3 separate regions of the Homo sapiens genome follow, and regions 1 and 3 are each linked to region 2. The links come from fine-mapping of genetic effects on gene expression. A gene starts in region 2. Each other region holds a variant in brackets. All regions are shown on one strand. Distances are from middle to middle.

Region 1 (8,186 bases), 160 kb before region 2:
CCTGTGGATCTATAATTATTTCAAAATAAAAACGTAAAGAAAATCCTATATATGGAGAAATAATGAAATTAAATACTGTAAATTTTAAATACTTGTGTCAAGATAGAACTTTTTTTTTTTTTTGAGATGGAGTTTTGCTCTTGTCACCCAGGCTGGAGTGCAGTGGTGCAATCTCGGCTCGCTGCAACCTCTGCCTCCCAGGTTCAAGAGATTCTCCTGCCTCAGCCTCCTGAGTAGCTAGGATTACCGGTGCCCACCACCATGCCTGGCTAATTTTTTGTATTTTTTGTATTTTGTATTTTAGTTTCACCATGTTGGCCAGGCTGGTCTCGAACTCCTGACCTCAGGTGATCCACCTGCCTCGGCCTCCCAAAGTGCTGGGATTACAGGCATGGGCCACCACGCCCGGCCAAGATAGAACTATGAATGAAATAATTTTTTCTCATTTAAAGTTCTCTTTTAAAATGTTTATAATTGATTTAAATATGTCTTAAAATACAACAACATTGTTATGTGTTTAAAACATATGGCTAAAGTGGCTTTGCACTCTACTTACCTAACCTAAAGCCTCTGCCCCATCCTCACTGCTGTTTCTTGCCCATTCTCTGATAGATCAGCTGACTAGCTCAGTATGCAGCCCACAAACCAAGGGTTTAGCATAGAGACTCGGGATCTTATCTTAACCTCAGAACTGCTACTAATCACTCAAGTCATTCCAAACAAGGTTTATAACCACGAATGAAGACGCTTTGGAGTCAGGTACAGAGCTACTCACCCTCAAAGATGGGGCAGATCTTCCTCCAGGCTGTGACGCCTCCCTGGCTAGTGTACTGGCCTAGTGCTGTCTCCAGAAGGAAGACAGGAATGCCACAGGTAAAGAGGAAGACGAGGTAGGGGATGAAGAAGGCACCTGTGGTTAGAAAACAGGCTGTTCATTTCCTGGGACTATTCTCCTCATGGTCTGCATTCACCTCCTCCCATTACCAACCCATACTGCCAGTCAGAATCTCGGAGGCAGAGAACATGCAAAACTGCAGGAGACAGCTGTCTAGATGTTTGGAACATAGCAGAGATCAAGAGTCACCCCATTATCTAAGATCTACACAGCCTCTTGCCTTTTTTCACTGCAGTTTCAGTCTATACCTATTAAAGTTTGTTCCCCACTGAACAATTACTGCTTAACACATAACTTGTGGCAATAACAAGGAGCTTATTAAATAATGGATGTCTAGGAGCATTGGCACAGCCCACAGTCTATAATTCTTTTCAAAGAAAGCATTGCTCTTAACGTCAGGTAGTCTTTTAGTAAGCTGAAATCAGATGCCCTTTCAGTCATTGTTATGGTTTGAATGTATCCCCTAAAGTTCGTGGTTGGAAACTTAATTCCCTATGCAACAGTGTTGGGACGTGGAGCCTAATAAGATGTAAGTCATGAGGGCTCTGCCCTCATGAATGGATTAATGTTATTACTGTGAGACTGTGTTTGTTATAAAAGTGAGTTTGGGCCAGGCACAGTGGCTCACGCCTGTAATCCCAGCACTTTGGGAGGCTGAGGTGGGAGGATCGCTTGAGCCCAGGACTTCAAGACCAGCCTGGGCAACATGGGAAAACTCTGTCTCTAAAAGAAATACAAAAAATTATCTGGGCATGGCTGTGTGTGCCTGTAATCCTAGCTACTCGGGAGGCTGAGGTGGGAGGATTGATTAAACCTGGGAGTTCGAGGCTGCAGTGAGCTGTGATTGTGCCACTGCCCTCCCTCCAACCTGGGTGACAGAGCAAGACCCTGTCCAAAAAAAAAAAGTGTATTTGGCTCTCTGTCTTTTATATGAATATTCTCTTGCCTTTCTGCCTTCTGCCATGGGCTGACACAAAGAAGAAGGCCCTCACCAGAGGTGGACTGCTTGCCCTGGACTTCCCAACCTCCAAAACTATAATAAATAAATATCTGTTCCTTATAAATTACCCATCTCAGGTGTTCTGTTGTAGCAACACAAAATGAACTAAGCTAGTAATCTGTCTCCTTCTGTTTTTATAAGCATTGGCGGAGACAAGACTACTGATGCCAGATATACTGGTATTTTCCCTACCATGGACCTGTCATCTGCTGGCAAAGTGGACAGCACAGTTCATAGGACACAGAGTACCAGAGAAGACAGAACTGCACAGACAGGAGAATCTGCAGAGGGTCCCCCTCAAGCTTCCAACTGAGTACTAGTCAGTGCATATGTGTGAGAAAACTGAGGTGAGGGAAAGAACCATTCAAAATGATTAAAAGTAATGGTGCTCACACACTGCCAGAGTAAATAATCTCAAGATTCACCAGGCATTAGGCAGAGTACGCAGAAGGGCATTTCCTCAGTAACGGGGAATAATTATCCCTAGACCGAGCACACTTCTATTGCTACCTAACCAATCTTAAAAGCAAGATATAAAAAGAGCAAGTAACTTCACTGATCCCAGAACAGAGCTAAAGAATATTTACAGAAATACGAAATTGGCCGGGTGCAGTGGCTCACGTCTGTAATCCCAGCACTTCGGGAGGCTGAGGTGGACAGATCACCAAGTCAGGAGTTCAAGACCAGCCTGGCCAATATAGTGAAATCCTGTCTCTACTAAAAATACAAAAATTAGCCTGGCATGGTGGCACGCACCTGTAGCTCCAGCTACTTGGGAGGCTGAGGCAGGAGAATTGCTTGAACCTGGGAGGCAGAGGTTGCAGTGAGCCGAGATCGTGCCACTGCACTCCAGCCTGGGCAACAGAGTGGGACTCTGTCGCAAAAAAAAAAGAAAGAAAGAAAAGGCAGGGTGTGGTGGATTACGCCTGTAATCCCAGCACTCTGGGAGGCCAAGGCAGGCAGATCACGAGGTCAAGAGATCGAGACCATCCTGGCCAACATGGTGAAACCCCATCTCTAGTAAAAATACAAAAATTAGCTGGGCGCGGTGGCTCAAGCCTGTAATCCCAGCACTTTGGGAGGCTGAGGCAGGTGGATCATGAGGTCAGGAGATCGAGACCATCCTGGCTAACACAGTGAAACCCCATCTCTACTAAAAATACAAAAAAATTAGCCGGGTGTGGTGGTGGGTGCCTATAGTCCCAGCTACTTGGGAGGCTGAGGAAGGAGAATGGCGTGAACCCAGGAGGCGGAGGTTGCAGTGAGCCGAGATTGTGCCACTGCAATCCAGCCTGGGTGACAGAGCAAGACTCCATCTCAAAAAATAAAAGTAAAAATAAATAAATAAATAAATAAATAAAATACAAAAATTAGCTGGGCATGGTGGCATGTGCCTGTGGTCCCAGCTACTTGGGAGGCTGAACCAGGAGAATTGCTTGAACCCGGGAGATGGAGGTTGCAGTGAACCGAGATCGCTCCACTGCACTCCAGCCTGGCAACAGAGTGAGACTCTGTCTCAAAAATAAATAAATAAATAAATAAATTATCCAGCAACCCATAAAGCAAAAATATTACCAGGTCTGGTATTCAATCGAAAATTACCAGGAAAGCAAAGAATCAGGAAAATGTTACTCATAGCAAGGAGATTGAACCTGACCCATAATTTACAAAGATGTTAGAATTAGCAGATGAGAATATTTAAAAGTTATTATAACTGTATTGCAAGTGTTCCAAAAGTTAGGGATATAAAAGATATTGAAAAAGACCCAAATAAAACTTCTGAACATGAACACTACAGTGTGTGAGATTTAAAGAAATACATTGGATGGGATTAATGTTAGTAGGCAGAGCAGAAGAAAAGATCAGTGACCTTGAACCATAATAGAAACTATCTAAAATAAAACACAGAGAGAAAAAAGAACATTTTTGCTGGGCATGGTAGTTCATGCCTGTAATCCCCGCATTTTGGGAAGCCGAGGCAGGTGGATCACCTGAGGTCAGGAGTTCAAGACCAGCCCAGCCAACATGGTGAAACCCTGTCTCTACTAAAAGTACAAAAATTAGCTGGGTGTGGTGGTGCATGCCTGTAATTCCAGCTACTTGGGAGGCTGAGGCAGGAGAATCACTTGAACCTGGGAGGTGGAGGTTGCAGTGAGCTGAGATCATACCACTGCACTCCAGCCTGGGTGACAGAGTGAGACTCCATCTCAAAAAAAAAAAAAAAGAAAGAAAGAAAAGAAAGAAAGAAAAGAAAAAAGAAATTTTTTAAAAAGAACAGGTATGCCTAAGTGGTGAGACAGCTTCAAAAAGCCTAATGTAATGGGAGTCTGTGAAAGAAAGAAAAGGGTGAGAAAAAGCTTACAGAAATAATAGCTGAAAATTTTACAAATTTTATGAAAACTATAAACCTATAGATCCAAAAAGTTCAACAAACACCAAGATTAAAAAAAAAATGAAAAAAAACTAGTCCAAGGTGCATCATAATCACATTACTTAAACCGGAATATGGAGCTTTTAAGAGAAAACCTTAAAAGTCACCAGAGAAAAACGACACATATGTACAGACAAAGATAAGAATAACATCAAATTTCTCATTTAAAACAATGCAAAAGAGAAGACAGTGATAAGGAAGCACATTTGCTGAAGCAATAAAGGAGGAGGGAGAAAGCTGTCAACCCGGAATTCTATACCCAGCAATAATACTGTTCAAAAAGGAAAGTGAAATAACTGTTTCTTAAGACATGCAAAACCTGAAAGGATCTACCACAAGTAGAACTGAACTACCAGAAATGTGGAAGAAACTCCTTCAGGGAGAATGAAATGATATCACCAGATAGAAATATGAATCTATACAAAGTAATAAAAAGCTTTAGAAATAGTAATTACATAGATAAACATAGAGAATGTTTTTCTTATTATTCAAATATTTTTTAAAAGATAATTGACTGGTTAAACAAAAATAAAAACAATGTAATATTGATTTTATAACATATAAAAATGTATAAGAAGAGCACAAAGGTTAGGAGGAAAGAAATGAAATTGTAATATTTTAAGGTTCTTATATATAAAGTGGTACATTATCACTTGAAGATAAAGTGTGATAAGTTAAAGATGTATACTACAAAGTTTAAAACAATCA[G/C]TAAAATAACACAACAAAGTTACAGCTAATAAGCCAACAAAAAGAAGAAAGCTAACAATGGAATAAGAAAAAATATTCAATTATTCCAAAAAAAAAGCAGGAGGAGAGGGAAGGGGGAAACAAATAACTGATAGGACAAAGAGAAAACAAATAATAGGATGATAGAGTTAAACCTAATTACATGGATAATCGTATTAAATGCAAATGGTCTAAACGTCCCAAATAAAAGGCAGAGATTGTTAGACTGGCTTTTAAAACCTGACAAGACTCAACTATATGCTGCCTTAAGAAAATGCACTTTGAATAAAAAAGACATGAAGAGGTTAAAAGTAAAAGGATAGAAAGATATACCATGCTGGGAGGCTGAGGCAGGAGAAATGGAGTGAACCCCGGGGGGCGGAGCATGCAGTGAGCCGAGGTTGCACCACTGCACTCCAGCCTAGGCGACAGCAAGACTCCGTCTCGGAAAAAAAAAAAAAAAAAAAAAGATATACCATGCTAACACTACTCAAAATAAATCTGTAAAGTTTATCTTAATGTCACACAAAGTAAACTTCAGAGCAAAGAATATTACCAAGGGTAAAGAAGGTAATTTCATAATGATTAAAGGGTCAATTAATCAAGAGGGTCAATTAATCAATCAGTATTTCAAGTGCATATTCACCTAATGACAGAGCTTCAAAATGCACGAAGCAAAAACTGACAGAACTACAAAGAGAAACATATAAACTAATTCCTGATAAATGTTAAAAACGTTAATAGCCCTCTCTCAATAATTTATAGAATAAGTATACAGAAAATCAGTATGGATATAACAGATTTGAAAATTATATCCACCAGCTCAACTTAGTTGACATTTATTGAACATTCTACCCAACAGTCCAACAGCAGAATATGCATTAGTTTCAAATGAACATGGAATATTCCACCAAGATGGGCCCATATCCTGGACCAGAGATCAAATCTCAGTAAGTTTAAAAGCATCCAAGTAATACAAAATTGGTTCTCTGACTAAATTAGAAATCTATCAGAGAAAGACATTTGGAAAATTGCCACCTATTTGGAAATTAGGTAACACATTTCTAAATAGCCTATGGCTCTACTGAAGTAATCAAAAGAGAAATTAGAAAGTATCTTGAATGGAATGAAATGAAACCCAGTATCATAATTTGTGGCATACTGCTAAAGCAGTACCTAGGAGATTTACTAAATGATAAAAGAAGAAAAGTTTCAAATCAATTACCTCGGCTTCCACCTTAAGAAATCAGAAATTATTGCTGAAATGAGGGTGTAGTTAAGAAAAAAAGAAAGAAAGAAATGAGAAGGATAAGAGCAAATGAAAGCCAAAGTAAGTCAAAGGAAATAAAAATCAGAGTGGAAATCAATAAAATGGAAAACAGGAAAGCAACAGAGAAAATCCATGAACCAAAAGCTGGTTCTTTGAGATAATAAAATTGATAAAATTTTAGAAGACACAAATTATCAGCATGACAAATGAGATGTATCCTCAGTAAAGATTCTATAGATATTAAAACAATAATAAGAAAAGATATGAAGAACTTTATGCCAGTAAGTGCAACAATTTAGGTAAAATAAAAAACGTAACTACCAAAGCCCACTCAAAAAGAAACAGTCTGAATAGCCCTATAACTATTAAGGAAAATTCATTTTTGGTTTAAACCCATCCCACAAAAATTTCCAGGCTCAAATGACTTCAGTGGTGAATCCTCCAAATATTTAAGGAAGAAATAACAGCAATTCTACACAAACTCTTCCAAAAAATTGAAAAGATGGAATGCTTACCCAACCAATTTTATAAAGTGAGCATTACCCTGATAATAAAAGCAGACAAATACATTATAAGAAAAGAAAGTTAAAGATCAACATATTTCATGAACATAAATGCCAAAATTCTAAATGATTTTAGGAAATCAAATCTAACAATATGTTAATAGGACAATATATTATATAGTAATGTTTATCCCAGAGATACAAAGTGGGTTTAACATTTTAAAAAATCAACATAGTGTTGTAGTCTCCAGCTGTTATAATAAATGGATAAATAAATAATGTGACTCATCCTGTTAACAAATTACAAAAGAAAAACTATATGATCATTTCATAGGTACAGTAAAGTATTTGACTGAATCCAACAGTCATTCCTAATAAAAACTCCCAGCAATGATGAGGAGAAGAGAACTTCCTCAACTTGATAGAGGGCATCTACAAAAAAACCCTACAGCTAACATCATACTTAATTGTAAAAGACTGCTAAGATTGAGAATAAAACAAGTGTCTATTCTTACTACTTCTATTCAATACTGTACTGGGGATTCTAGCCATAGAATCTAGCCAATAAGGCAAGATAAGGAATTAAAGGTTATTCCGATTTAAAAGGAAAAAATAACACTGCTTTATTCTCAGAAGACATGATATTCTACAATGAAAATCCTTTGGAATGCACACAAAAAAAAACCTATTAGAACCAATCAGTGAGTTTAGCAAGTTTGCAGGATACAGGATGGGCATACACAAATCAATTGTGTATGTATTAGGAATAAACAACCATAAATTAAAATGTAGGAAATAATACCATTTACAATAGCATCAAAAATATTAAATACTTAGGAATAAATCTGACAAAAGTTGTGAAAGATATATGTACACTCACAACTACAAAACATTGCTGAGAGAAATTAATGAAGAGCTAAATAAATGGAGAGTCATACCATATTCAGGATCAGAAGACTTAATATCATTAAAATGTCAATTCTTTCCAAATTGATCTATAGATTTAATACAATCCTAATCAAAAGCACAACAGACTTTTTTGTAGAAATTCACAAATTCTTTCTAAAATTCATCTGGAAATGATAAGGACCCAAAATAGCCCCCCAAAAAAAAAAAAAAAAAAACCTAAAAACAGGGCCTGGCGCAGTGGCTCATTTCTTTTTGGGAGGCATTTTGGGAGCATTCTGGGAGGCCAAGGTGGGTGGATCACGAGGTCAGGAGATCGAGACCATCCTGGCCAACACGGTGAAACCCTGTCTCTACTAAAAATACAAAAAATTAGCCGGGCATGGTGGTGGGCACCTGTAGTCCCAGCTACTCGCGAGGCTGAGGCAGGAGAATTGCGTGAACCCGGGAGGCGG
Region 2 (8,186 bases):
CAACTGCTTTATCGACTAAGTTTATGGAATATTCTAAACCCTTTGTTGTCATTTTGGCAATGTTCACAGCATCTTCACCAGGAGTAGATTCCAGCTAAAGAAACCACTTTCTTTACTTATTCATAAGAAGCAACTCTTCATCCATAGTTTCATCATGAGATTGCAGCAATTCAGTCACATCTTCAGGTTCCACTTTTTTTTTTTTTTGAGACAGAATCTTGCTCTGTTGCCCAGGCTGGACTGCAGTGGCGCGATCTGGGCTCACTGCAACCTCTGCCTCCCGGGTTCAAGCGATTCTCCTGCCTCAGCCTCCCAAGGCTCCACTTCTAATTCTAGTTCTCTTGCTACTTCCACAGCATCTGCAGTTATTTCGTCCATGAAGTCTTGAACCCCCTCAAAGACATCCAAGAGGATTGGAATTAACTTCTTCCAAACTCCTGTTATTATTGATATTGACCTCCTCCCATAAGTCACAAATGTTCTTTTTAAAATTTTTTTATTAAATATATTTTTACTTTTTTTTTTTTGAGACACAGTCTTGCTCTGTCACTCAGGCTGGACTGCAGTGGCACAATCTCGGCTCACTGCAACCTTGGTCTCCCAGGCTCAAGCAATCCTCCCACCTCAGCCTCCCAAGTAGCCAGGTGCATGCCACCACTCCTGGCTAGTTTTTGTATTTTTTTATAGAGACAAGGTTTTCTATGTTGCCCAGGCTTGTCATGCACTCCTGAGCTTAAGTGATCCACCCACGTTGGCCTTCCAAAGTGCTGGGTTTACAGGTGTGAGACATCTCACCAAGCCAAGTCACAAATGATCTTAAGGACATCTAGAATGGTGGTGAGTCCTTTCCAGAAGGTTTTCGATTTACTTTGCCCAGATCCACCAGAGAAATCACTATGTCTGGCAGCTATAGCCTTATGAAATATTTTTTTTTTTTTGAGGCGGAGTTTCACTCTTGTTGCCCAAGCTGGAGTGCAATGGCACGATCTCAGTTCACTGAAACCTCCGCCTCCCAGGTTCAAGTGATTCTCCTGCCTCAGCCTCCTGAGTAGCTGGGATTACAGGCATGCGCCATCATGGCCAGCTAATTTTGTATTTCTAGTAGAAACGGGGGTTTCTCCATGTTGGCCAGGCTGGTCTCGATCTCCTGACCTGGTGATCCGCCCACCTCAGCCTCCCAAAGTGCTGGGATTACAGATGTGAGCCACCGTGCCCGGCCTGAAATATATTTCTTAATAAGACCTGAAAGTCAAAATGACTCCTTGATCCATGAGCTGCAGAATGTCTGTTGTGTTTGCAAGCATGAAAGCAACATTCATCTGTTTGCATACCTCCACCAGAGCTCTTGGGTGACCAGTTGCATTGTGAGTGAGAAGTAATATTTTGAAAGAAATCCTTTTTTTCCTGAGCAGTAGGACTTAAAATAAAACATACATAAAACGGTGAACTTAAAATACTCAGTTAACCATGCTATAAACATATATGCTGTCATCCAGGTTTTGTTGTTCCATTTATAGAGCACAGGCAGACTATATCTAACATAATTCTTAAGGGCTCTAGGATTTCAGGGATGTAAATGGGCACTGGCTTCAACTTAAAGTCACCAGTTGCATTAGCCCCTAACATGAGAGTCAGTCTGTTCTTAGAAGCTGTGAAGCCAGGTATTGACTTCTCTCTAGCTACAAAAGTACTACTTGGCATCTCCTTCCAATAAAAGGCTGGTTCATATATATCAAAAGTCTGTAGTTTAGTTTAGCCACCTTAATCAATTACCTTAGTTAGCTCTTCTGAATAACTTGCTGCGGCATCTACATCAGCACTTGCTGCTTCCACCTTGCACTTTTAAGTAACGGAAATAGCTCCTTTCCTTAAACCTCACGAACCAGCCTCCGCTATCTTCCACCTTTTCTTCTGCAGCTTCCTCACCTGTCTCAGCCTTCATTTTATTGAAGAGTTAGGACTTTGCTCCAGATTAGGCTTTGGCTTCAGGGAATGCTGTGGCTGGTTTGATCTTCTATCCAGACCACTCAAACTTTCTCTATATCAGCAATGTCTGTTTCACTTTCTTATCATTTTTGTGTTTACTGGAGTAGCACTTTTAATTTCCTTCAAAAACTTTTCCTTTGCATGCACAACTTGGCTAACTTTGGTGCAAGAAGACTGGCTTTCATCCTGTCTTGGCTTTCAACATGCCTTTTTCACTGAGCTTAATCATTTTCAGCTTTTTATTTAAAGTAAGAGATGTGTGACTCTTCCTTTCACTTGAACCCCCACTGTAGGATTGTTAATTGGTCTAATTTCAATATTGTTGTATCACAGGAATAAGGAGGCAAGAAGAGAGGGAGAAAGGCAGGGAGACTGCTGGTCTGTGGAGCAGTTAAAACATCCACAACATTTATGAATTAAGTTTGCCATCTTATATGGGCATGGTTCATGGTGCCCCTAAACAATTATAATAGTAATATAAAGGATAACAGATCAGCATAACATATACAATAATTATGAAAAAGTTTGAAATATTGTGAAAATTACCAAATGTGGTGCAGAGACACATAGTAAGCCTGTGCTGTAGGAAAAATGGCGCAGATAGATTTGGTTCCATGCAGAGTTGCCACAAACCTTACATTTGTAAAAACAGTTACCTGGGAAGCGCAATAAAGGAAAGTGCGAGCCTGTAGCAGATGCACGTTCCATTTAGACATCCTTAGGACTCACACCAGCGAAGGGCCCCAGCTTTTCCATACCAGTAGCTGTAATTCTGAGACGAAAGTGCTTTTCCCCCACCTTTACACCTTGCTTTCTGGAAAGATAAGACCATAATGGATTTTGAACTTGCTTTTATCATTAAAGCCCAGTGTCTTACATTTCTCCGGAAAAGGAAGCAGTGTTTGCTATGGAACAAATAGTAGAATTTTAATACATAGTCCCCTGACCGTAGAAACTGAACCTCAGGTCCTATCCTGGCTCTAGGCCACCCGGTCATGGAAGAAGAAACTTTTCTTAGAATCTTTATCTCTTGAGACAAGCTTGGAAATTACAACATATATGTACCATGAACGCGAAGTACCTGAGCTCAAAGCAGTTGAGCAATCTTAAGTGGGGGTGCCCGAAAGTGGTGCGTTCTGACCCCAAACGTCACACTACCCGTCCCTGGAGGAGCGGGTTGCAGCCCAGCTGCGTCGCCCCGCGCAGAGCTCCAGGCAGAAGAAAACTACATTTCCCAGAGACCTCTGCGCGGTCGGGAGCACCGCGAGGAGGGGCGAGATGGGGGCGGGCCTCTGTGTGAAGGCCCTTCCCATTGGTGCGCATTCCAAAGGGCCATGTAAACTTCTTCGCGATTGCACGGATTCAGGGACGCTCAGTGGCGCCGCGCCGCTCCTTGGTTTGACTTTTGTTTTTCAGTTGCGTTCCCTGACTCGGAGTCTTAGTGTGTCGTGAGTATAGAGTTTCGGGTTTGGGGTGAAGGGGTTAGGTAAGAAGCCTTGGGAAGAAAATCTGGTTAGGGAGAAGTAACTGCGGAAGCAGTGCGGAGGAGAGGACGTGAGCCTGAATGTGGTGTCCGTGGAGGGGCTGGGGACCGGAGGAGGAAAGCTCCAATGTGCAAAGGGAGAGACCTCAGGAGTGCTGGAGCGTTGGGACCTGGAGCAGTGAGGCGGTCGAGAATGGGATGAAGTGGGAAAAGGAGTACGGGATTCGGGCGCCCTGGAGATGCGTTCCGGTGTACTCTAACCCCACGCTGGTCTAGCTCTCAGTTTCCTCATTTGTGAAATAAGGGATAGTGAAAATACTGAACGGTTGTTGGGATAATAAATTGTACAGATTTGTCACGTGGCTAAAAGAAAAAAATTCAAAGTGCTACACAAATGTTAATTGTTAGTAGACAAGCTATAAGAATATATCTAAGCAAGGGTATTGGAGATAGGTGCAGAGACCCTAGCTGAAACCCGTTAATTTACCTATAAACAAAGGCATTGTTCCTTTGGAAGAGGCAATGAAGAGTAAGACGCGATTTCTGTCTGTAGGGAGCGCACGCTAGCATGGGAGAAACGATAGCAATAAAGCACTCTAATATGTTGACTTGTAGATAATTTCAAAGGCAGTTCTTTTGCACTTAGATCATTTTTGCTAAATCATTTTGGATGGGGAGACTCAGGAAAGAGAAAAAGGAGGTGGTATTTAAGATGAGTTTTCATGTACAGACTAGATTTTGTTAAGTGAAATTATGAGGGTTGTGGAGGGAGTTGTGTTCCAGCTAGAGGGAAGCTCATGAACAAAGGTATGGAGGCAGGAAAGTTATCTGGAAACGGTACATTTAGGAGAGTAGAGAGAAATAAGGCAGGAAAGTTAGGTTTGGCCCTTATGTAGAAAGCCATGAATTCTAGGCTAACAAATTGGATTTAATGCTTTAGGCTATGAGGTGCTACTGATGTATTTTATTAAAGAAAATGGTCCAGGAGACGCAAGGAGTAGGTAGAACCGTTAAGGTGTTGTAATGGTGTGGGTAAGAAGTATTGAGACTCTGAATTAACATGGTCATTGTGGAGATAAAATATACAAGATATTCATATGGTTAGACAGGAGGTTCAGAAGAATGAGTGATCAAATGATGAATTTAAGTTGCCAACTCCCGGTTGCTTGGAAACGCTGAATTAGTAACTAAAATAGGAAAGTCAGAAGGGGCATGTTTGGATAAAAAGATGATGTGTTAGGTTTAGGAAATGTTAGCTTTGAGATGCTAAAAAAATACCTAACTTGAGTGATTTCTTTTTTAAGTTAAACGTTTCAAGTGCCAGTGGGACTATGGGTGAAAATGTCCACTACATTTTTGTTAATTCAAATCAAGAGGTTGAAAGAGATGTCGTTTATTTATTCAACATGTAATTGTTACTTACTGTATGCCATGTAGTGTTTTAGATGACAGAGTTAATAATAAAAACAGGAGGAATAATGATGTTCCCAAAGAAATGGTTAGAGGAAATGATAAAGAAACTTGAAGACAGAACCTCTGAGCCAAGGGAGTAAAATTGTCAATAATAATAATAGTCCACATTTACTGAGTGCTTATATATGTGTCAAACACTGTCCCTCGGCCTTATATCCGTACACCAACCTATGACATAGAAGTAACTGAAATTTAGAGAGGATAACTTGCCTGAGGTACACAGCTAATAAGAGGCAGGGCTTTGACTCAAACCCAAGTCTGATATCAGAGCCCACATTCTCAACTACAAAGCAATATTTATTTTTATTATTATTTTTTCCAGGTAAGGTCTCACTCTGTCACCTAGGCTGGAGAGCAGTGGGGCAATCTCAGCTCAGTGCAGCCTCTGCCTCCCAAGCTCAAGCAATCCTCTGCCTCAGCCTCCTGAATAGCTGGGACTACAGGCACGTGCCACCACTCCCAGCTAATTCTGTAATTTTTGTAGAGACAGGGTTTCACCATGTTGCCCAGGCTGGTCTCAAACTCCTGACCTCCAGCAGTCCATTCACCTTGGCCTCCCAAAGTGCTGGCATTACAGGCATGAGCCACTGTGCCCAGCCTATTTTAATTGTTTTTTGAGACAGGGTCTTGCGCTGTTGTCCAGGCTAGAGTGCAGTGGCACGATCACTGCTCGCTGCAGCCTTGAACCCTCAGGCTGAAGTGATCCTCGCACCAAGCAGGTGGGACTACATTGCCACTGTGCCCAGCTAATTTTTAAAATTTTGGTAAAGACAGGGTCTTGCCATGGCCTGGCCATGCCAAGGTCCGGTCCCAAAGTGATATATTTTTAAAGGGTAGTTGGCACTACCAGGCACAGTGGCTCACGCCTGTAATCCCAACACTGGCAGGCAGAGGTGGGTGGATCATCTGAGGTCAGGAGTTCGAGACCAGCCTGGCCAACATGGCGAAACCCTGTCTTTACTAAAAATACAAAAAAAATTAGCCACAGTGGCAGGTGCCTGTAATCCCAGCCACTGGGGAGGCTGAGGCAGGAGAATCACTTGAACCCAGGAGGTGGAGGTTGCAGTGAGCCAAGATCGTGCCACTGCACTCCAGCCTGGGCTGAACAGAGTGAGACTCTGTCTCAAAAAATAAATAAATAAATAGGTAGTTGGCACTATCTAATTAAGAATACAAGTGAAGGAGTAACTATTGGATGGAGGAGGATAGAAACAGAAAAGAGCAATTGAATTTATTAATTTGGATGTCTGCTGACCAATAAGAGCTTGGTTAGATGTCATAGTAGAAGCCCGAGGCCTGGCTCAGTGGCTCATGCCTGTAATCTCAGCACTTTGGAAGGCCAAGGGAGGAGGATTGTTTGAGTCCGGGAGTTCAAGGCCAGCCTGGGCAACATAGCAAGGCCCCGTCTTGCAGCCAGAGAGGTGAGTGTAGACAACTTTTCGTAGACATGTGCAACAGTGAGGACAGTCACTATGAAGGAGAAGAGGGATTGCAGGTTGTTAGAAGGGTCTTTCAAAGCTTCAAATTACTTTTTTTTTTTTTTTTTTGAGACGGAGTTTCGCTCTTGTTGCCCAGGCTGGAGTGTAATGGCGCGATCTTGGCTCACCACAACCTCCGCCTCCCAGGTTCAAGCAATTCTCCTGCCTCAGTCTCCTGAGTAGGTGGGATTATAGGGATGCACCACCATGCCCAGCTAACTTTGTATTTTTAGTAGAGATGGGGTTTCTCCAGGTTGGTCAGGCTGGTCTTGAATTCCTGACCTCAGGTGATCCGCCTTCCTCGGCCTCCCAAAGTGCTGGGATTACAGGCAGGAGCCACTGTGCCCAGCCGCTTCAAATTACTCTTAAATGGCTTTGAAACAGTGAAATTTAACTTTAAGTTGTCACCCATATCCGTACAATGGAATTTTATTCAGCCACAAAAAGGAATGAAGTACTGATACATGGTACCACATAGGTGAACCTTGAAAACATTATGCTAAGTGAAACAAGACAGTCACAAAAGACCATATACTATGTGATTCCATTTATAGGAAAGTCCAGAATAGGGAAATCTGTAGAGACAGTAGGTTAGTGGTTGCTTAGGACTGGGAGACAGGGATAATAGCTGAAGGACACAGGGTTTTTTTCTTGAAGTGACGAAACTTCTAGAATGGACTGTGCTGATAGGTACACGTATCTGTGAATATACTAAAAATCATTGAATTTACACTTTGAATGAGTTTAATGGTGTACACAAATTACATTCCATAAAGCTGCTTTTTTAAAAAAATGTTACCCATAATCCTTCCATGCCAATCCAATAACTTTATTTTCTAGGTTATTTGGACAAGAGGCACATTGACCCAATTTGGAGACGTATTTTGGAAGGAGGTGAGTTTGGAGGAGGAGAGTAGTCTTTTAAAGGAGAGAATTAGAAGAAAGATGGCGTATTTGAAGGGTTGGCTGTAGAAGAAAACAAATGGGATGAGAGAAGCAGAAACAGATTTTTAAATCTAGATTGAATAGACTGGCCAGCAGAAGAAAAGGATGTTTAACAGTCTTTCAAATTCATATTGAGAGTTGTATATATATACATATACACTTAGTATGAGCCAGGCACTGTTTATGTTACTAGGGATACAGCAGTGAACATAATAGATAAAAACCCGCTGCCTTTAGTGAGTTTGCATATTCCAGTGTGGAGAGACAGACATTAAATATTAGATGGTTATAAGTGTTCAACTTTTTTTTTTTTTTTTTTTTAAGAGAGGGTCTCACTCTGTCACCCCAGCTGGACTGCAATGGCGTGATCATGGCTCACTGCAGCCTTGATCCCCCGGTGCAGGCGATCCTCCTACCTCGGCCTCCTGTTTAACTAGGACTACAGACATGTGCCACCACATCTGGCTAATTTTTTGTAGAGACAGGGTTTTGCCATGTTGCCCAGGCTGGTCTCAAACTCCTGGACTCAAGCAGTCTATCCGCCTTGGCCTCCCAAAGTGCTGAGATTACAGGCGTGAGCCACTTCAACTAGCCAAGGTTGTAAGTGTTAATGGAGAAAAGTAAAACAGAGAAGAGGGATGAGGTTGGTAGAGTGGTCAGGGAAGACTTCATCAAGAAAGTGACATTTTAGCCCTGAAGGAGGAGAGGGAGTAAGCCACATAGATAAATGGGGAAAGAACATCATAGCAAAGAGAACTGTAGGTACGGGGACTCTGAAGTAGAAGTGTGCCTGGCACGTTTGAAGAACAGCCAAGAGGCCG
Region 3 (8,186 bases), 110 kb before region 2:
TTTTTTTTTAAAAATGGATTTACTAAAACAACTTCATCACCCAGAGGTACTACAACCCCACATCCTCTGATGAAGCCATGGTGTTATTCAACAGCATCTGCTGTGGGCCGTAGTTAGAAATCACCAGTGTTGGAAACAGCAGACATTGGGGTCAGGGCTGCAAGGCAAAAAGCTGTTATTTGCTGGTCTTGCTCATGGCCATGCCTGAAGCCTGGTGTCTGGAATACTTGTGAATGAAGTTTTCCCCGAAAAGCATGCATCACTGTGGCTCAGTAAGATAGTACGACTGGTCATCATCGTCATCTTCTTCTCTTTTTTTTTTTGGCAGAAGCCTGGATCCATGTACCTGCTCTTCCCTAAAATGTAGACCCAAGACAGCAAGACTTTTCAAAGCCAAAAAACGGCTCCTTGCCTTGTAGTAGGTTCTTCTCCTCAGAATCCAATCTAGTCAGATTTCTGATCTAGATGATATCCTCATCTTACAAAGATAAGGTGACCTGCCCCAGCTTGTGAGAGGTTCTCCTATTTGGGATGTTCTTCTAGCACAAACAAGCACAAATCGCTGAGGTCAATAGACTGTGATACCATTCCTTGACGTCTAACAGAAATAACTTTGGCCCTGTTACTCCTAGTTGTATCTTTAGGGCATTAAGTACCAGGTAACAGTGGAAGGAAAGTGGTACTCCAATCCCTCTCCAACTATCCCAATGAAGGAGATCCAAGCAATTAGCACCTTCAGTTGGTGCTGCTCCTAAGTTGTAAGCCTCTAACTACTATCAGCTGGACAAAAGCCACATCCTATATGCCCTGTTAGCACACCAATGTATTAATACTAACCAGCCACCCTAGAGCTCAATTAAGCATCTGGCCTTAATGCAGTAAACCACACTCAAAGGAGACATGAAATATTGGCTGTTGTACCAAAGAAGACACCCTCTGCATAGATATGTTGATAGAGAATGTAACCCACAGAGTCCATGCAAAGAGGAAGCCAGCACTAAGGGGACTTTCTCTGAAGGCCATTCATCTTTGGAAGCAACATTCCAAGTGGATATAAACCACTCTACTTGATGACTAAGGTCTCAATGTGGTCCATGTCCCCCCATGTCCCAAACTAACCAAGCATCTGCTAACTGGTCTCTTTAAGATCCTCCATTGGTAGTTTGTAGCTCATTATGAAGGAAGGAGGTGGTGCTGGACCTGGGCTAACTGGCCCCTGCTTCTTTGCACAGTTTATACAGATGTAATCTTCATTTTCAGCCATTTCTGGAGATACACCCACACAAACTTGATGAAACCACTCATCACAGCCACCATCACATTGTACCCAGTCTACCTGTAGGAAACAAGATTGGGGAATGTTTAGGTTACATAAACATTAAGCCTAGAATAAAAGCAAACCAAAGAGCTTTCTTGGCTTAAACAATAGCAAACAACTGGGATGTCTAGATAGGCAATGACTTCTTATGGGGTTATTTTTTAAAGAAAGAAGCTGAGAAGTTAATACCCCAAAATTATATTTCACCATAGTGTGTCCACAAAATTAGGCCTCTTAGGTACTCCATTACCTCATGAATACCTGGGGCTCCTTGTGAGGCAGAAACATGTTTGAGAAAAATTTGACAAAAAGGGAACTTCTAATAGAGCAGCCAAGTAGTTTTAGCTAATATTAACAATTTCTAGGCTCTAAGACAATGCAATTATCAATCAAGAAAGGAAGAGTACAACAATGTGAAGGCAATCCTGTGTATTAGCTTTATTTCAAAGAGATAAGCCAAAGTACTAAGAGCATTAAATACCTTTTTAGAAAAGCAGTCACATAGGCCACTTTTAAAACTAATATTTTTTATTCTTCTCTTCTTCCGTTACAAATACAACTCCCTATAAAAAGTTAGCAAATATCAGATGTCAAATCTTACAAATTAACCAATTATAACAGTCAAAGACACAGGTCAATAGATCACTCTGGGGTTTAAAATTAAAATCTGAAAAACTGATAGGTCAGTGGCAGGTGTCAAACTTTGACCCTTCTGACAATACTGTGATTACAGGAGGCTAGGAAGGGATTGTAGTTTGGTGACTTTAAGCCTTGGACTTAAGAGTTAACAATAAAGTGACTTTTGGCTTTTATATTTGAAGGCTGATTGTGGTAGTTTTTACAGCTAATGTCATGGCAGACAAGAACATTTAAGATGAAAAGAGCTACTCTTCCTCACCTCAATACCAAGGTTGGTCATTTCATTGGTAACGTTAAGAAGCCACTTAAAACCATGAGCTTTACCAGATATCAAAGTAAGGAATAGAAAGGGATCCAAGAAGTACCTCTATACAACTTAAGAGAAAGAACAGATGAAGGAGGTTTTGGCTAGGTAAATGAGTTTCATTCATAGCAACTGAGTAGTTTTCAAAATTAGTTTCCATGTCCTATAAAAAACTGTCAAAACCACAGTAGTCACGTCAGTAGTTTTAGGCTTGTAATAAGGGGTGGGAAAAATAATTTGTCAAAATGATATTCTACTTGTTTTGTTCCTATGCTAAAGTTCTAGATCTTAAGAGACAATATTGTGTTAACATCAAGATTACTCAACTCAGAAGCTCTGAGTTCCAGTGTGTATCATTTCAGGCAAGTCATTTAACCTGAGTGACTCAATTTCCTCATCTGAAAATGGAGATGACATTAATTACAAGATTACCGAGAGGATCCAATGAAATAATGTATGGCAAAACACCTAATTCACTGCCCAGGATACTGGAGGCACTTTCCAGTCATGGTCTCATGGCTCTACTCATTACCCTACACTACACAAAACGTTCTGCACCTTGATACAACTGTCGGCAGCACTGCTTTTCAAAGTGTGTAGACCACTGGCATCAGAATCATCTATTGTGTTTGTTTAAAATGTAGCTGGGACCCATCACCCTATGAACTCAGAATATCTGGGGAGTACAAGCCAGAAGCTTACATTTTTAATCAGCTCCCAAGTGATTCTCATATATTCTAAATCCGATCATTGCTGGCCCTCTGTGATATCACTTCCTGTAAATTCAGAGCAACTTAACAATACCTTCCTAAACTGATTTTTGTTCTGTAATTGATTGTTTAGCTTCTGAAGTCTGTGCAATAAAAAAACTCACCAAAATGTTCCTATTGTAGCAAACTAATCAGAGACCAAAAAAAAAAAAAAGGGGGAAATAATGGCATCTGTGCAAAATGTAAAAATTAAAGTACTGCAAGCAGTAAAAACACAAAATGCTAGCTGTAGAGTACGTGCACTCAGAGTGAGTGTTTTGGCTGTTTGGGACTGGTAAAGGGAACTGGATAGATAAACTGTGGTTCTCTGTGCTGCCCAGGTTTGAGATACCATGCTTTTTATAATGGTACCTGTGAACCAACAGTTACCTTCACCCTTACACCTCCAACCCTCTTTCTTAATCCAGTCTAGTCCCCATTCATGCTAATCCATTGGATAAGAATGTTATTAATGTATCAGTATTTGCTACAAAGAAAAGTGTCCCATGTCTTTTTAAATCTAGTGTTTGCACTATACTCACTGGCTTACAATTTCCCAAAATTCTCTTACAAATAAGACAATACTTTCCCTTTTGTGATTTTGACTAAAGGTCCCTTCCTAAGCCCAGATCTTCTACCATTTCAAAAGAGTATATAACCTTCCTTGAGATACTGGTACACAAATTCTAACCTAGACTACAGGTTATATAACAATTTAGCCTGATAATAGAACAAGCAAAAAATAGTCCTTCTCTTTACCAATATCTTTTTTATCATGTTCATCTACTAACAATCAACTCTGAGTTCTACTTTTGTGTGAAAGGCCCACAGCAACATAAAGCAAACTAAAGTTTGGGATGTCAACTGAATCCACAGATGATTTTGACACAGGGGCAACAGA[C/A]TATGTAGTATCCTGAAAACTCAAGAACACAGAATTTGGATAACTGTATAAATTGTCATTTCCCCCCCTTTCATTATTTCTAGGAGATGTATTTAGTGAATCACAAAAATAATTACTAAACTTCACAGCTATGAACTGTTCAAATATTAAATGATAGGAGATTTTACATTACAGTACAAATAGGTTACTATGTTTAGATCTGGGGGAAATGTCTGTTTCAAAAAGAAATATATTAAAAAGAGGAAATATTAGTTTAATATTCATGTTTTGCTGTATGGTTTCATATTCACACTTAATAAAAAATATTTGGCATAGTATATTTTGTTCATTTCTTAGAGAATAGTACTGCACTGGGAAAAAAGAAAATCTGGTAATTTAGTGATATTCTTAGCTTACTAATTAAACTGAGCTTTTGTTATTTTGGCATTTAATATCTTTTGCACCCCAAGTTTCCTAGCAAAAGCTGGATTTGAAAAAGGAAAACAATTCACTAAGTGAACTACAACATATGTTCAGAATCCTTGTGTATATTTTCTTGGTGCTCTCAATATTCAGTGACCAATCCTCCCAATTTGCCAAGGAATGACAGATTTCTCAGCATGTGGGAATTTCAGTGCCAAAACTGGGAAAGTCCCAGGGAAACTGGGACAGTTAGTCACTCTAGCTCAACATCATGCGCGTGCACGCGTGTGTGTGTGTATTACACACATTTAGGTAACTTAACCTTTGCTTATCTGTGCTAAAAGGAGATATGAACTAGTAAAGCCGCTGGAAATGCAAATACTTTGATTGAGGCAACACCCCCATGAAAATCTTAAATCAGAGTGGCTAATAAATAGTAAAAATGAGAGTTCATAGTCTCTTAATTTACCACACAAAACTTCTCATGGAAGTAGGAATGGGTAAAGGAAAAGGCCAACAATAAGAGGGTTAAAAAAAGTGAAGAGAAAAAGACTATTTTCATAAGTAAAATTATTAAATATTTATTCTAATACAGAAGAAAAATACTACTTAAATTAGTAGCCTGAGAGAATTTGATATTTTTTCTAGTTAACTTGTTTTATCTTTGGTACCAATAAGACTGAATAAAGAGTTCAGAGACAAAAAGATTCTGAACTTCAAAATTAATTTTTTAAAAAGTTTTGTTAATATTAATTTTAGCTTGACATTAATTTAATAATCAAAGGAAAAATTATTTTTTCAAAATCTTTTACATTATTCTGGTATTGTCTTCCTTTTTCTAAAACATCTTGAAACTGAGGCTAGGCACATTTAACTAGCCTCATTTAATCTTTCTTTTAATTTTTAAAAGAGCATTTCTCAAAAAAAGAGGTGGGCATAGTGGTGTGTGCCTGTAGTCCCAGCTATTCAGGAAGCTGTGGCAGGAGGACTGCTGGAGCCCAGGAGATCAAGGCTGCAGTGAGCTATGACCACACCACTGCACTCCAGCCTGGGCAACAGAGTAGGACCCTGTCTCAAAAAAAAAAAAAAAAAAAAATTTAATCTGCATATTTTGGGGGAAAAGTCCCAGTAATTATTAGTTAGAGAAATAATAGTAATTACTGGTCAGAGAATTCACCTAAAAACAAGTGAACCCTGGAAGTTATTTTTTGCTGCATGGTATCTTAAAGAACAAACTGGGCTAAAAAGCATGATTTTTTCTTTCTTTCTTTTTTTTTTTTTTTTTTTTTTTACATCATCTTGCCAATCTTTTTCTTTTTGAGACAGGGTCTCCTGTGTAGCCCAGACTGAAGTGCAGTGGGGCACTCACAGGTGCGATCATAGCACATTAACTATAGCCTTGAACTCCTGGACTCAGGCAATCCTCCTGTCTCAACCTTCTGAGTAGCTGGGACTACCAGGATGGGCCACTGCAGCTGGCAAAGGCATTCTTTTCTTATTTTGCTCTAAAGATGTGTGCTGTATATTAATTGTTTTCTCAGAGAAACACTAAACACTGAGAAAGTTTTAACATTCTTTACAGAAATTTTTATAGAACTGTAACTTTTATTTAGCAAAATCAATGTCAGGAACAAACATGTAGAACCATAAAAACTGCAAAACAGCAGTAACAGGCAAAATATCTATAATCTGAAATAACTTCTGCTTAAAACGAAACACGTTATAGAAATAAAACACTATTTTATATAAACTAACAACATAGGGTGGGGCACACGTTGCTCACCTTTACGTATCGTAACAGTTCAAAATAGACATTTTCTCTGAGCACTCAGCCAAATCTCCTTTTGCTCCATCAAAATGTAGATGATAACTCTAGATTTTGTTTAAAGATTTTGTTTAAAAAATACCTATAATATTAGGAGCAAATCTCACAGTTCCTTCAAAAATAATGATCACATCTTAGCACTTACGTTGCATTTTTTGGTTAACAAGTGCTTTCATAGAGATTGTTTTGTCTTATCATCATAACCCTTTGAATAGGCAGGGCACCTGTTAATTTGACAATTTCATAGCAAATGAAAAAAAAAACGGCCTAAGTGTTTATATTGCTATAAGAAGACAACAGGAATAATGGATGAACTGAATCCTATTTAAATGCTGAGCAGAAGGGAGGGGAAAGATTAAGTGATAAGGAGAAAGAGTATAAAAATAAGACGAAAGGCTCATGATAGATGTAAACATTATAGAAAGAATGTCAGGAAAGTTTAAAAAGGAAACATCCTACCTTGCTGCTAGTCTTTAAACTACCATAAAATTAAGGAAGAAAAGGGAGAAGGTTCTGCCAATAATGAACTGCTACACTTTGATACCCAAAGAGAAAGTTAACTCTTCATCAGCCTCTTTAACAAACAAACTCAGATGGAAATAAATTCAAAATTAAAGATAAAAATAATATGCACATATATATTAAAATGCTTTAAAATGTTTATAATATAGGAAGATGCTTATAAAATGAACAGATGCAAGTCAGTAAACAGTCTGACAATGATATAAAACAAACGCCATAGAAAAAAATTGGAAGGAAACACTAAAATATTTATAGCTGTCTGCCTTGGAAGATTAGACTATAGGATATATATTTTACTATGCACATTCCAAAAAATGAATAGAATACCCCTAATACATCTCATTTAAATATGTGTCATTTAGTTTTGGAATGTGTTTTTGTACTTACATCTCAATTATTGATGGGGTAAGGTGTTAGTGGAGAGAACCTGGTCTGACAGCCAAGATCTAGGGTTCTACTTTTGGTTTTGCTACTAACTAGCTCTGTAACTTTGGTCACATAATTACCTTCCCTGAGTCCTGGTTGCATCATCTGTAAAATGAGCAGCCTGAACAAAGTAACCTGTTGGTGCCTTCAAGCTCTAAAAAGGTTTAAGTATTTCATTGAAAAAGTGAGGGCATAACCTATAGGGAACAGTGATGCAGTTTTATTTACTGTTTATATTTTCAAACTGAGGCACTATTAGAATTCTAAATATCAAATAGTATAATGAGCATAATAAAATTAAAACTACAGATTTATCAATATTCTTGATAAGAGCCGTAACAGGTGCCTCCAATCATTTAAACAACTGGAATTTTTCATAAAGTCTGACTATTACTCTCAGAAGTTCATACTGTCAACATTATATTTAAAGAACGGCCATAAGAGAATTACTATACTTAAAATTTAGGGTTGGAAATTTTAAAACAATGCTTTTTTTTTTTTTTTTTTGAGACAGAGTTTTGCTCTTGTGGCCCAGGCTGGAGCACAATGGAGCCATCCTGGCTTACTCCAACCTCTGCCTCCTGGGTTCAAGCGATTCCCCTGCCACAACCTCCCAAGTAGCTGAGATTACAGGTGTCCGCCACCACACCCTGCTCATTTTTTGTATTTTTAGTAGAGATGGGGTTTTACCATGTTGGCTAGGCTGGTCTCGAACTCCTCACCTCAGGTGATCCGCCCACCTCGGCCTCCCAAAGTGCTGGGATTACAGGCGTGAGCCACACCTTGCCTGGCCTAAAATAATGCATTTATAGGTTTGAATTATTTGTTGCAAAAGATTTGAAGAAAATCATATTCCATTTAGGAGGGTGCCCACAGCTCTGAGTGTAAGATATGGACTAAAAGTTTCAAGTCTTTGGAATACCATCTTAATGCAATTTGCCACAGCTCTTACAATACTGGCCCAGGATTTTTTTCAGGCCATTGTGACTATCCGACAAGGTATTTAGTTCTCTGAGTCACCTTATAGGGAAGGCACAAGATTATTCTGAAACTTGTTATGCCCACTGCATATGAAATGCACTGTTTGCCAGGGAATGTCA

The links.
Region 1: its variant is fine-mapped to the expression of CCDC77 in whole blood (TOPMed, PIP 0.97).
Region 3: its variant is fine-mapped to the expression of CCDC77 in whole blood (INTERVAL, PIP above 0.99).

The regions. Positions count from the first base shown.
Region 1 is chr12:242,904-251,089 of GRCh38, forward strand. SLC6A13 (solute carrier family 6 member 13) reads right to left here. Exons shown (of 15, transcript NM_016615.5): 3 at 776-910. Among named protein-coding and RNA genes, the nearest start is that of SLC6A13, 16 kb to the right of the region's middle. The variant G/C (reference allele first, on the strand shown) is at 5,035.
Region 2 is chr12:398,251-406,436 of GRCh38, forward strand. It overlaps CCDC77 (coiled-coil domain containing 77), which reads left to right and starts at 3,394. Exons shown (of 13, transcript NM_032358.4): 1 at 3,394-3,434; 2 at 7,261-7,314. LOC105369594 (a long non-coding RNA gene) reads right to left here and starts at 3,160. Exons shown (of 4, transcript XR_007063149.1): 1 at 3,068-3,160; 2 at 2,643-2,800. RefSeq lists enhancers at 2,918-3,237, 3,652-4,204.
Region 3 is chr12:284,327-292,512 of GRCh38, forward strand. It overlaps KDM5A (lysine demethylase 5A), which reads right to left. Exons shown (of 28, transcript NM_001042603.3): 28 at 1-1,336. The coding sequence ends at 1,130. Among named protein-coding and RNA genes, the nearest start is that of SLC6A13, 26 kb to the left of the region's middle. The variant C/A (reference allele first, on the strand shown) is at 3,912.